Linked DNA regions of Homo sapiens: region 2 is linked to region 1. The links come from fine-mapping of genetic effects on gene expression. Tissue or cell type: whole blood. Region 1 holds a variant in brackets; the other region holds the start of a gene. All regions are shown on one strand. Distances are from middle to middle.

Region 1 (7,500 bases):
TATAAAATACTTTTTTAATGATGTCATTTGCAAACCACTGAAAACATCAGCACTAGGGATAAATCTAACATTGAATATGTAAGACCTCTACACAGAAAACTACACAACATTGCCAAGAGAAATCTAAATAAATGGAGGAATAAACCAGGCATATGGATTGGAAGACTTACTCTTGTAAAGATATCAGAGACCTCGAAATTTATCTTCAGATTCAAAGCAATCTCAGTCAAAATACCAACCTTTTATGGGAATTGACAAACTGATTCTCACATTTTTATGGCAATACAAAGTGCCAAAAAGAGCCAAAACAACCTTGAAGAACAAGAAAGTGGTGAGCTGGACAATCACTTTGGAGATGTATGGCAGGATCTGCCAGACCTGAGCACACACCGAGCCTATGACTTAGCACTGCTTGTCAGGATGTGTCCCGTAGAAAGGCATGCATATGTTCACAAAAAGATTTATACAATAAAATTTATAGCAGGGTTACTCATAGTAGCCTGGTGAAAGTTGTCCGATTCAAAACGGGATCACTTGTGACAATCCCCTGGCTACATGGAGCTGGGGAAGGGCATGAAGGGAAGTCTCCCGTGTATGATGTGCGCGATTATAAGAACTATCATGAGATGTTTCCAAACCACAGGTCACTACACAAGTCACACAAGGACAGCTAGCTGCTTATACAAGAACACTTGCCTGACACGTGGCCTCACAAGCCCAATCCAAAACTGCGGGAGCCTAGCCAACTCCCAGACTACACGTCCTACCTAGCAACTACCAACACTTGCCAGTCAGAACTCACCAGCTCAGAGCCAGGCACAGTGGCTCATGCCAGTAATCCCAGCATCCTGAGAGGCTGAAGTGGGAGGATCACTTGAGGCCAGGAGTTCGAGACCAGCCTGGACAACATAGTGAGACCCTGTCTCTATAAAAAAGAATTTAATTTTAAAACTATGAAAAATAAAAACTCACCAGCTCTTATAAGACACTTCCAGCTCCAATATACTTTCTTTCAAAATAACCTGTGTAGCCTACGCTTTCCCTAATAAAACCCTAACCTTTTCCCTTCATTCTTTGGACATACCAGAGACCACCATGGTCTGTCTATATGTCCCAGATTGCAGTCCTACTTCTTACACCCAAATACAACCTTTTATTTAAACTTAGAGATTCAACTCTCTGTTTTTTTTTTTTAACTTCTATTTTTGGGGGGACAGAGGCTCGCTATGTCGCCCATGGTGGAGTGCAATGGTGCGATCTCGGCTCATTGCAACTTCCACCTCCTGGGTTCAAGCAGTTCTTCTGCCTCAGCCTCCTGAGTAGCTGGTGTTACAGGCGTGCGCCACCACACCCAGCTAATTTTTTGTATTTTTAGTAGAGATGGGGTTTCACCATGTTGTCCAGGCTGGTCTCGAATTCCTGACCTTGTGATCCACCCACCTCAGCCTCCCAAAGAGTGCTGGGATTACAGGCGCGAGCCATTCCACCCAGTGAAAGCTCCAACCTGAAAACAACCCAAATGTCCCCAAGAGAATGGACACTGGAGGTGGGTATGTTCAACAGTGGCACACTTGTGAGATGAGACGAGCAAACATTGCTGCACACAAACAAATGGATGGGTCCCACAAGCATAACGTTTCGGGAGAGAAGCCAAACTCAGGAGTAATGGCTGCTTCCACAGATGGAAAGCTCAGATGAGGCAGAGGGCACCGTGCCAGAGAATGGCCCTCAGGCAGCACGGCAGTCTCCCAGGACCTGGAGACCATCACTGTCTTGATCTGAATGGTGGTGTTGAATCTGTTTTGTGTGCTCCCTTTCAGGGCATTCTGTGTTTTGACTTCAATAAATAAGTACATTAAGCCAGGCGGGGTGGCTCACACCTGTAATCCCAGCACTTCAGGAGGTCGAGGTTTGTGGATCACGAGGTCAAGAGATCGAGACCATCCTGGCCAACATGGTAAAACCCTGTTTGTACCAAAAATACAAAAATTACCCGGGCATGGTGGCACATGTCTGTAATCCCAGCTACTTGGGAGGCTGAGGCAGGAGAATCGCTTGAACCTGGGAGGTGGAGGTTGCAGTAAGCTGAGATAGGGCCAGTGCAATCCAGCCTGGCGACAGACAGACACTCCATCTCAAAAAAAAAAAAAAAAAAAAAAAGTACATTAAGTACTATGTATCGTACAATGTATCTATGGCTGGATCCCCAGGGGCTATCTCTGGGTGGTGCCCTGGTGGCTGGGGCTCAGGCCAGGCTAGAAGGTTCCATGTCCGTCTTTTTGTTCCTTTGGAATTACCTCCCATGCATATGTATTACCTAGTCAAGGAAAAAAGGCTTCTGTTTAATTAAAAAAAAATGCATTCAGCTTTTCAGCCTCGCAGCTGAGCCCCTTCACTTGGGAGCAGCCTGGGTGCATTTGTGCACAGTTCAGATTCCAGGCAGGACGCTGCTATGGCCCTACCCACCCCCTCATCACTCATCCTGACTCCTGGGGCCAACCCTGGGGCTGTGGGCTGTTGGGTCTGTGGTAGGGTGGAGACCTTAGGCCCATATGTACCAGGAAGTCCCCAGAGAGCCAGTGAGGAGATGCTCAGGACACTCCTGTCAAGGCAGGCCCTCAGCCTGTGACTAAGCCTCCCAGCCATCTTTTTCTTTTCCTTTATGTTGTTTAATATTTTTGTCACAAAGAGCCATGGTCACTGGCAGAGCTGTCACTATTTAAATGGTAGAAAATGCCCCTTTTGGGGCTGGGCATGGTGGCTCATGCCTGTAATCCTGACATTTTGGGAGGCCAAGGTGGGAGGATCACTTGAGTTCAGGAGTTTGAGACCAGCCTGGGTAACATAGCGAGACCCCGTCTACAAAAAATCAAGAAATTAGCCGGGCGTGGTGTATTGGTTTGCTTTCACACTGCTATAAAGTACTGCCCGAGACTGGGTCATTTATAAAGGAAAGAGATTTAATTGGCTCACAGTTCAACATGGCTGGGGAGGCCTCAGGAAACTTATAATCATGGAGGCCATCAAAGGGGAAGCAAGACACCTTCATAAGGTGGCAGAAAGAAGTGCCGAGCAAAGGGGGAAGAGCCCTTTGCAAACCATCAGATCTCTTGAGAACAAATGCACTACGTGAGAGCAGCATGGGGGCACCGCCACCCCCATGACTCAGTTACCTCCACTTGGTCTCTCCCTTGACACGTGGGGATTATGGGGAGTACAATTCAAGATGAGATTTCGTTGTGGACACAAAGCCTAACTATATCACATGGTGTCGCCTGCCTGTGGTTCCAGCTACTCAAGCTGAAGTGGGAGGATCGCTGGAGCCCAGAAGGTCGAGGCTGCAGTTAAGCTGAGATAGTGCCACTGCACTCCAGTCTGGGTAACAGAGCCAACAGATTGGCTGCAATAACAGAAACTGAAAGGAAAATAAATCTCAGGACCCCAAAATCACTAAGCCAACGGGAAAAGTCAAGCTGGGAACTCCATCAGCAAACCTGCCTCCCATCCTATTCCTAAATAAAATAGCTACAAACATAAAAAAGCTATGTCCTTCCCTCAAAATTTGTCCACAGAAAATTCCTTGTGGACAAAAGACACGCAGAACTCAAGAGTCCTCCCTCTGCTCCGGTGAGACAAACGCACAGCTGATGGCTTCTTTGCCCTATTGTTTCACTAAGCTGGACTAAGGCGTAAGTGACTATTCCTATAAATTGTGTATTCAATTAAAGGCTAATCAGAAACTCAAAAGAATGCAAACTTTTGTCTCTTATTTACCTATCACCTAGAAGCCCCCTTCCCGATTTGAATTGTCCCACCTTTCCAGACCATTGAAACGATTCTCCTGCCTCAGTCTTCTGAGTAGCCGGGACTACAGGCACCCACCACCATGTTCGGGTAATTTTTGTATTTTCAGTAGAAATGGGGTTTCACCATGTTGGCCAGGCTGGTCTGGAACTCCTGACCTCAGGTGATCCACCTGCCTCAGCCTCCCAAAGTGTT[G/C]GGATTACAGGTATGAGCCATGCACCCAGCCTCAGATACGTTTTGGTTTACCAATTTGGTAACCAACAGAAAGGACTCTGAGGCCGGGCGCGGTGGGTCACGCCTGTAATCCCAGCACTTTGGGAGGCCGAGACGGGCGGATCACGAGGTCAGGGGATCGAGACCATCCTGGCTAACACAGTGAAATCCCGTCTCTATTAAAAATACAAAAAAATAAGCCGGGCGTGGTGGCGGGCGCCTGTTGTCCCAGCTACTCGGGAGGCTGAGGCAGGAGAATGGCGTGAACCTGGGAGGTGGCGCTTGCAGTGAGCCAAGATTGCGCCACTGCACTCCAGCCTGGGCGACAGAGCGAGACTCTGTCTCACAAAAAAAAAAAAAAAAAAAAAGACTCTGAGTGGAGGTGACCCTGACCTTCAACAAATCTATCAGTGATTGGTACCAGCTTGAGCTTTCTTTACGGCTCAAACCAATAGGACAATTTGCTGAAGACTGGGAGCTTCCCTCCCTCCAGAGAATCCCAGATCTCCCAAAATTTGGTTGAGATCTACAGTTTATTTTTCTGTGCAACTGTCAGAGGCGTGTGAACCAGAGCAACTCCACCTTGAATAGGGGCTGGGTAAAATGAGGCTGAAACCTACTGGGCTGCATTCCCAGACGGTTAAGGCATTCTAAGTCACAGAATGAGACTAGGAAGTTGGCACAAGATACAGGTCATAAAGACCTTGCTGATTTAAAAACAGGTTGCAGTCAAGAAGCCAGCTAAAACCCACCAAAACCAAGATGACCACAAGAGTGACCTCTGGTCATCCTCACTGCTACACTCCCACCAGCACCATGAGAGTTTACAAATGTCATGGTAACGTCAGGAAGTTACCCTATATGGTCTAAAAAGGGGAGGCATGAATAATACACTCTTGTTTAGCATATCATCAAAAAGTAACCATAAAAACGGGCCATCAGCAGCCCTCAGGCCTGCTCTGTCTACGGAGTAGCCATGCTTTTATTCCTTTACTTTCCTAACAACATTTATTTCCCTTTATGTACTCGCCCTGATTCTTTCTTGTGCGAGATCTAAGAACCCTCTCTTGGGGTCTTGATCGGGACCCCTTTCTTGTAACACAACTCCTTTTTTTGGAGTTTTACTTGCTTCCAACAAGGAAGGCAAGTTTTCCTGCTTCCATGACGGTGGAAGGCAGATAACTCCTTTCCGGAGTTCGAGCCTGCTTTCAACAGGGAAGGCAAATTTGAGTTTTCCCCTGCTTCTAGAATGGAAGATGGCAGTCTTCAGCCTGAGACCCATTCCTAGGTAAGTAGCTTAATTGGGTTTTCGTCTTGGCTAAAGTTATGATTAACAACCAGCTGGTCTCAGTTTCTCTTTACCATTAGAGTGCTCAGTAATCATATTGTTGGGATCTTTTTTAAAAAAATGTTTTCCGGTCTTTCTCCCATTAGATTTGACCCACTCTACCTGCCTTGGTCAAATCCGAATGAGAATTCCAAATTATGGGGAACAAGGACTTTCTGAATTACCTAAAATTCCTCACAGATGCAAAAGAGAAAACCAAAACAAAACCATACTCTCGGTTTCCGCGTTCGCTCCCCGTCGCGCTCTCGGTTTCCGCGTTCGCTCCCCGTCAGGCTCTCGGTTTCCGCGTTCGCTCCCCGTCAGGCTCTCGGTTTCCGCGTTCGCTCCCCGTCAGGCTCTCGGTTTCCGCGTTCGCTCCCGGTCGCGCTCTCGGTTTCCGCGTTCGCTCCCCGTCGCGCTCTCGGTTTCCGCGTTCGCTCCCGGTCGCGCTCTCGGTTTCCATGTTTGCTTCCTGTCTTACTTTTCTTCCACCCTGTTCCTCCTTCCCCTTCACCAACTTCAGTACCAAGAAAAAAATCTAGAGGTGTCTAATGACTCAAATCCTGTAAAGAACTCAGAACAATGGCACCACTCACCCCTTTTGGGGTGTTCTGTTTTCTTGGTGGCGTTTCAAGAGTCATGGACAGGTCCTTCTGGGTCTAAGGCTCTGGCTCCTGCTACATTACCTGTATTCTTTGGCTTTGTGGGGGTACCAGAGATGACCTTGCGCTATGAGAGGATTTGAGCTTGGCGTTTATAATCATGGTGGGCGAGAGCTACAAAGTTAGGGGTGGCTGAGGACAGTTTATAGGAAGTGGTCTTGGCTGGGATTTTTTCCCCCTGGGAAGTTGTTGTTTAGGATCCTAATTCTAGTTCGGAGGTGCATTTTAAAGGGTCTTCTCCATTGCCTTGTATGCACATTTGCATGAGGAACTCAACTGTTGTTTTCATAGGTAAATGAGAGATTGAGTTTCCTCAGCTCCAAAAAGAAAGGACATTTTGCTTTTCCCAGTGGAAAGGTGCTCCTGGGTGAATGGGGGCCAAGCAGGAGTGTCCGGGGGGTTGACCCGCTGCGATGTGCGACGGTCCTACAGGAAACCCCCAACAAAATTAGTTTAAAAGGTTGTCCAGGAAGCGCATGTAAGAGTGGCTCACTCCGCACTTTGAGCCCTTCTGGAGGTACTTAGACGTCCTGAGAGAGAAATTGAGACACTTAGACCTCCGGAGAGAGAAATTGAGACACGTGAGAGGGCAGCAATGACTCGTGGTGACACTGTGAAGTCCCACCCGCAACCAGCACAGTTTGACCCATGACACTTGCTAGGCCACAGGTCACTTCCTCCTTTTGAGAAAAAAATGTGGGAAACAAATCATCTAAGAATGAGGAAAGCCAAGGAAAGCAACGCCTCTTGGGCCCCCGTTTGGTTTTATGATGCCTCTGTTTGCAAGTGTTTGTATAAAATGGAAATATGGTCTTTCTGTGCACAATTACGTCAAGGAAAATGCAGCGCCTGAGGGTCGGCCTGCAACTGTCAAGTTCCTAAGTGGGTTTTTTTTGTTTTTTCTTTTGTTTTGAGACAGTCTCGCTCTGTCACCCAGGCTGTTGTGCTATGGCACCATCTCGGCTCACCGCAACCTCCACCTGTTGGTTTCAAGTGATTCTCCTACCTTAGCCTCCTGAGTAGCTGGGATTACAGGCACCCGCCACCATGCCCAGGCTAATTTTTGTATTTTTTAGTAGAAACGGAGTTTCACCATGTTGGCAAAGCTGGTCTTGAACTCCTGACTTCAGGTCATATGCCTGCCTTGGCCTCCCAAAGTACTGGGATTACAGGCGTGAGCCGCCACAGCCGGCCAAAGTTCCTAAGTTCTCTATCTCTCTGCTGTGTTTTCCCTGCTTTAAGTCTGCTGTTACTTTTCTACTGAGATAAAATCCACTGTTTGCATCCAACCATTTCTTTTTGTTATTGTTTCCGCAAACCAATGAGTTTGTATTAATATCGCATGGCTAGAGTTCTAAAGTAAAAGCTATAGGATTTTTGAGTGTGTATGTGTGTGTTTATGTGTATATACCTGTATTTTGTTATGTGTTTTTGGCCACAGGTACCAAATTGGCTTAAAGTTATAGAGTACTCATAAATAATAACCGAAATGCT
Region 2 (6,393 bases), 110 kb before region 1:
TGGGCATGGTGGCGGGCGCCTGTAGTCCCAGCTACTCTGGAGGCTGAGGCAGGAGAATGGCCTGAACCTGGGAGGCGGAGCTTGCAGTGAGCCGAGATGGCGCCACTACACTCCAGCCTGGGCGACAGAGCAAGACTCCATCTCAAAAAAAAAAAAAGTTTTGCTTCATGGGAAATCCCCAAAGTCCCTCCCCACACCCCATGGGACCAAAGGGCCCTAGACCTCAGGGTGGGGCCTGCAGCGCAGGGAGCAGAGCCGGCAAGGAGCTGCCCTCAGGTCGTTCCTGGCCACACAGCCAGCCTCGGAGCCACTGAGAGGCCTGCCCTGGGTCCCGAATCTAGACGCCCCTTCCAGCCTCAATCTTTCTTCCAGGGTAAGCAGCCTGAGAGGCCAAGAGGACAGTCCACCGAACCCTGAGCCCAAGGCCCAGGATTCCTTGCTTAAACATCCCCAAGCCTGGATCCATCCTCCCGAGGTAGAGCTGCCTGAGCTGTACCCAGTCCTGCTGGCCTGAGGGGCAGCCAGGGGAGGTGACGTGGTGCTTTTCTGGGGCTGCAATGAGCTCAGACCCACGGGCTGGGTGTAGCATGTGGGCTCATTGAGGCCCCTCACAATGTGGGGAAATCGGAGAGGGGACTGGCTGGGGCTGGCCCTCCTGCAAGGACTTCTGAGAGTGCTCCAAGGAGCCCTGGGGTCCTCCACTTGCCCCTGGCCTTCCAGGCCCTCACACACCATTGTTGTCCAGACAGAAGAGACTGGGCGCTGTGGTTCACGCCTGTAATCCCAGCACTTTGGGAGGCCGAGGCGGGTGGATCATCTGAGTTCAGGAGTTCGAGACCAGCCTGGCCAACATGGTGAAACCCCGTCTCTAATAAAAAATACAAAAATTAGCCGGGCGTGGTGGCACGTGCCTTAATCCCAGCTACTTGGGAGACAGAGGCAGGAGAATCGTATGAACTCGGGAGGCAGAAGTTGCAGTGAGCCGAGATAAAGCCGTTGCACTCAAACCTGGGGTACAAGAGCGAGACTTCTCTCAAAGGAAAAAGAAAAAAAAAAAGACAGAAGAGAACCTGTTCTGTCTAACTGCCTTTTGCTTGAGTGCAGGGAAGGCAGCCTCCCTTCATACTCATGCCCCAGCCCTGCAAATGTCACAGCAGGACCCACCTGGCTGCCCCTCCCCATACCCAGAGTAACCCTCACCCAGAGTCCCTGGAGGACCCAACCCTCGGGGGCATGCCTGGGGCCCAGCTGCATTCAGGCATCCAGCAACCCAGCCAGAGGGCTGGGGCTCCCCAACCATGGCCGGGAGGTAAGGGCTGAACCCAAGGCCAAATCAGAGCATCAGGAAGGTGAAGAGAGATCTGGGAGGGGCTAGGGAGAGGATGGATCTCTTCCCCATTCACTTCCTGGCCCACCCAGACTGGCCCCAGGGGTGCAGCTGACAGGCCCCACCCTTGGGAACTGCACCCTCCTGACTGGTGTCCTGCAGGCACCCTGAGGCCATCACCCTGGACCCCTGCCCTACATAGGCCTTACAAGGAGGAGCCAGGGTGGACACCCAGACCTCATTGAAAGTAGGAGTGTTCTCAAGGTCCCAGACCTTACTCAGGGACCCCAGTCGGGGGGTGGGGCAGTGGGAGGCAGAGCCCCTTGCTAGGAGCTTCTAGCCAGGCCCACCTTTTCAGATATGCCAGTGAGCAGCCCCAGCTTCGTTCTCCAAGATAAAGACCCTAGTTACCTCCATTGCTCAGCCTCCCTTGCAGCTAAGTGTAGCCATGTGACTAAGTTCTAGATCAAGTTCCAGATCACAGATAAGTGGAAGTGCCCTGTGGGACTTCCAGGAAGTCTCCTCTGGGATGTCCCTTATTCTCTGCTAAGAACACAGAGGCAATGGCTGAGTTCCAGCAGCCACTGTGAGGCCATGAAGGCAGGGATCCTAGGGACTGGGATCTGAGAGCCTGGCTCCCAATGGCAGTGGAGCAATGCCATCATCTCTAGCAAGGCCGTCTCTAGCCTGCCAGCCCCTGGACCTGCTTAGTGTTCGAGAGTAATGAACAACCTTGCTGAAGCCACTGTTCCTTAGGTGTCTGTGGCCTGCAGCTGAACTTGACTCCGATTCGTAGGCCCGCAACTGGAGGGCCTCTACCTCGAGGGAGTGGGGTGTAGATTTTTCCTGGAGGTGAAGGTTCTCAGCCCTACCCTCTAGCCCGCCCACCCAGCTCCAGCCGTCTGTTTCTGTCTCAGATGAGAGGGGGCCTCTCAGGACAAAGAGGAAGTAGCTGGAAGGGGAAGGAGCCAGCTGCAGAGAGGAGGAGGTGAGCTGCAGAGAAGAGGAGGTTGGTGTGGAGCACAGGCAGCACCGAGCCTGCCCCGTGAGCTGAGGGCCTGCAGTCTGCGGCTGGAATCAGGATAGACACCAAGGCAGGACCCCCAGAGGTATGTGCCAATGAGGCCAGGGCAGCTGAGAAAAGCCAGGCATGGGGAAAGGGCTGCTGTCTGCCTCCCTATGGCCTCAGCCTCCCAGCAACCCCAGGTCCAGAGAGTCACACAGCCTCCAGCTAGTCCTGTAGATGACTCGCTCCGTCCCCAGTCCGTGCAGCTGGGATAAGCTGGGCCCTGGCTCTCCAGCCAGGTGACAGCTGGGCCCTCTACCTCAGCCTGGGACTGGCAGCCATGCCTAATGCCCTGCAGGGCAGGAAATCTGGCACCTTCAGCCATGACCTCTGATGTCTGCAGGGTCTTACGCTATCTACCATGGGACCAGGGGGCTACAGCCCTACTCTGCAGGGGTCTCTCAGCTTGAGCCAACCTGGCTGGCGGTCCTCCCAGGTTCCATTGCAGGAGGAGGTGGTGAGGCGCTCTGGGGTCTGTAGTCCTGGGAGGGGACTTGGACAGGCTCCAAGTCTGAGATGGGGCCTGCAAGAGGCAGCGCCTCTGTGCTCTGAGCTGCCCGTCTGCCTGGAGCATTTAAGGGAGCAAAGGTCCTCTCTGGTGAGGGCAGGGAGTGTGGGGAGCAGCTGTCCAAGAACAGCCCTGGCACCTCGTTGCCCAGCCACAGCCCAGGATTCCATGTTTCCTCTCATTGACCAGCCACAGCCCAGGATTCCATGTTTCCTCTTCTGAGAGTTAGTGGGGGAGAGCAAAGGCCCGATGCTGGGCCCTGAATCCCTGGGGACAGTGGGGACACGGTGGGCACCCTGAGGTCTCCTCTGTGGGGTGGGGGGAGCATCCCCCAGAGTTCAGCTCTGGGGTGGGGGCGGCACCCACCCACCTCTGCAGGACCCCCCAGCGTGGGGGGAGTTGGGCCGCAGTGACTTGGCCTGAGTCCCCTGTCCCCACACTTGGTTTATGCTCCTACCCCCAATCCCCCATAACGCTTGGTCTCCAGGGCAGACTCAGTCCAGGCCCGACTCCTGTGGTGTTCCTGGCATTTCCGCCCCATGCTGAGGCAGGCCAGGTTCTCAAAGCCCTCAGCCCTGACCCGTGGGAGGACAGCCCAGACGAACCCCAGAGGCCTGGAGGCTGAGCTGGCTGCTCCTGGGTGGACAGCCGACCCACCGAGCCCTGGGTCCCAGCGCCCAGCCTGGCTGCAGACACTGGCACTCAGCACTGCCCAGGCCCAGGCCCCAAACCTCGGAGACATCCCCATCCCAGCCAGGGGCCAGCCAGCTCCTGCCCTGGTGGATGTCTCAGTCAGAGGCTGGCCAGCCAGGTGACCATGCTGGGCACAGACCCCTCCCTGCACCCGGGGAGGGCGCCTCTGTACTTGTGAGGCACCCTTCCCCCATGGTGGCACCTGGGGCAGCCTGACTGCTTGCTTTGGGGGTAGGAGTGGGGATGGGAGCCCACATCCCACAGGGCCCAGATGGCCTGGCTCCCAGCTCCTTGTGGGGTGACCACTCTGAGGAGATAAGGCGAGTCCCTGCAGCAGAGGACAACCCCCTCTGCCAGCAGTAGGGGTCCCACTCTGCCGCCATCTCTGCCCTCTCCACGCCTAGCCTCTCCAGCAAGGGTACTGCTCAGCTGCCCCCTCTGACCTGTGGCTCTCTGGAGGGGCTGCCGTGGGGCCAAGACAGGAGCCCAGCCCAGGAGGGAAGCAGTTATTTATAGGCCAGCAATAAGAGGACCAAGCGACAAAAGCAGAAACAGCCCTTTCAGACGCAGTTTCAGTTGTGGTTGAAACAGGGAACTGAGATGCAAATACCTAGATACTCACTGAGTGGGAGACCCTGAAAGGGGAGACACAGAAAGCCGGGGCATGTGGCTAGGCACAGACGCCCGCCCGCCCCTCGTGCTTGGCCCAGGCTCAGCCCTGGGGACCGCCTTAACAGCAGTCCTTCCGGCTTGGCCAGGGGGACAGGACAGGTGACATGTGGCCGGCTGCGGGCTCCAACACCCACACGGCTTGTCCTCGTGGAAAGCACACCCCCAACATCCAGGGCGTGACCTCGGGCATGAGTGGGGGGCTTTTGGGGGCTTATGTGGGTGTCTGTGCAGGGGTGTCCCCAGTGCCCAGCTGCCCAGGCACTGAGGGGCAGTTCTGGGCAGAGCTGGAGCTGCTGGTGATGCCAGGCTGCCCTGTGCAGATGCTGAAGCCTCTTTGGAAAGCAGCAGTGGCCCCCACATGGCCATGCTCCATGCCGCCCCGCCGCCCGTGGGACAGAGAGGCTGGCACGGTAGGACTGGGGGGCCCCAGGGGGGAGGTGGCTGGGATCAATGGCCTTTCAAGAGCTCCGAGCCAGAGTGGAGAGGTCACAAGCAGCCTTGAGGGGGCCTCCAAGCAGAGGTGCCCTGACTGGTGGGCAAGGGAAGCCTCCCTGGGCTGCTCCAGACCTTCCCTTTATGCCCCTGCTGGAGGTGCTGGGGACAGCCAGTTACCACGAGCCACAGCATTGCAGAGTGGGCTGCAGGCCCCCTGACCCCTGCCACCACCCTGGGCTGGGGGCCTTCTCTGTATCACCCTCCCCTCTCCCTTGTCCACCCTAGTCCCACCCCAGTGGCAGCCCAGGTCCGGGAAGTCAAGACGGTCTCTGTCTCAGCACTGGAGGGGCCATCGTGGCCCAGCCAGAAGTCAAGCCCCGCCCTGTCTGGTGACCCTGCGGGTGCTGCCCCATCCAGTTGCAGGTCCTGGGAGCGCTGGCTGTGCTGTGGCTGGGCTCCGTGGCTCTTATCTGCCTCCTGTGGCAAGTGCCCCGTCCTCCCACCTGGGGCCAGGTGCAGCCCAAGGACGTGCCCAGGTCCTGGGAGCATGGCTCCAGCCCAGCTTGGGAGCCCCTGGAAGCAGAGGCCAGGCAGCAGAGGGACTCCTGCCAGTAAGTGAGCCCATGGAGGCCTGCGGGGGCAGGTCTCAGTTTGGGGCTGCTGCCTGTGTTTCTGCCCTTGGATCTGCCCGTGAGATAAGGGGGGCCCTCTACCAGCTCCTCCAGGAAGGTGCAGGTCACCAGGGAGGGCCACGACCATATGAGCTGGAGTGGGGGCTGGGGACGGGGCAGGCGTGTGGTGCTTTTTGCAGCAAACAGAGGCTGCCACCTGGGGGCTCTGACAGGCTGGAGAACACTGCCTGTGCTGAGGCTCACCCCCTCAGTCCTTCCACCCCTGGGGGTAATGTCACTGTCCCCTGCCGCCCCTCATCCTTCCCTCCCACCCTTCTTTCCCTGCGGTTGGGGTCCTGGAATCCCAGGACTGCCCCGGAGGAACCTGTTGGGCCATCCTGCACACATCCCCTGGAAACGGGAGCTTACCTGCCCCTGGCCCAACCTTTCCCTTCCAGGCCAGCTCTGGCCACCACCAAGGGCTTCCACACCACGAGGCCACCCCAGACCCCAGACTCCACAGCTCTGCTCTACTCTGCCCGGCTTCAGGAGCAGCTGCTCCCTGTGGGCAGTGCCTCAGGGCTGAGTGGGGCCAGGACCCCCCAGTCTAGCCTGCTCTGGACCAGGCAGCCCCTCTCAGGCTCCTTCCCAAATTGCTCCTGGGTGTCACCACCCCAGCAGCATGCTGGGCTCAGGCCCACCCTGCCCAGTCTGTTTTGTTGCCTATACCTTAAACCCTTACCCTGCACACTTGGCCTGGGCTCATCCCGGGGGCCACCTGAGCAACGGTTGCTCTGGCTTGGCAGTGGGATGGGGCAGGTGATGTGAGGTGGGCTGGGGGCTCCCGCACCCATACTGAGCCCAGTGTGGCTCTCCCCACAGGCTTGTCCTTGTGGAAAGCATCCCCCAGGACCTGCCATCTGCAGCCGGCAGCCCCTCTGCCCAGCCTCTGGGCCAGGCCTGGCTGCAGCTGCTGGACACTGCCCAGGAGAGCGTCCACGTGGCTTCATACTACTGGTCCCTCACAGGGCCTGACATCGGGGTCAACGACTCGTCTTCCCAGCTGGTGCGCCCCGCCCTG

What was found. PIP is the estimated chance that this variant, and not a neighbour inherited with it, causes the effect.
Region 2: PLD4 starts here. The variant in region 1 is fine-mapped to the expression of PLD4 in whole blood (TOPMed, PIP above 0.99).

What each region holds. Positions count from the first base shown.
Region 1 is chr14:105,027,886-105,035,385 of GRCh38, forward strand. It overlaps LOC124903398 (a long non-coding RNA gene), which reads left to right and starts at 4,972. Exons shown (of 2, transcript XR_007064368.1): 1 at 4,972-5,305. RefSeq lists an enhancer at 5,725-6,226. The variant G/C (reference allele first, on the strand shown) is at 4,000.
Region 2 is chr14:104,922,555-104,928,947 of GRCh38, forward strand. It overlaps PLD4 (phospholipase D family member 4), which reads left to right and starts at 2,325. Exons shown (of 11, transcript NM_138790.5): 1 at 2,325-2,436; 2 at 4,587-4,676; 3 at 5,119-5,312; 4 at 6,195-6,378. The coding sequence starts at 4,587. RefSeq lists enhancers at 54-103, 2,498-2,667, 2,650-3,159.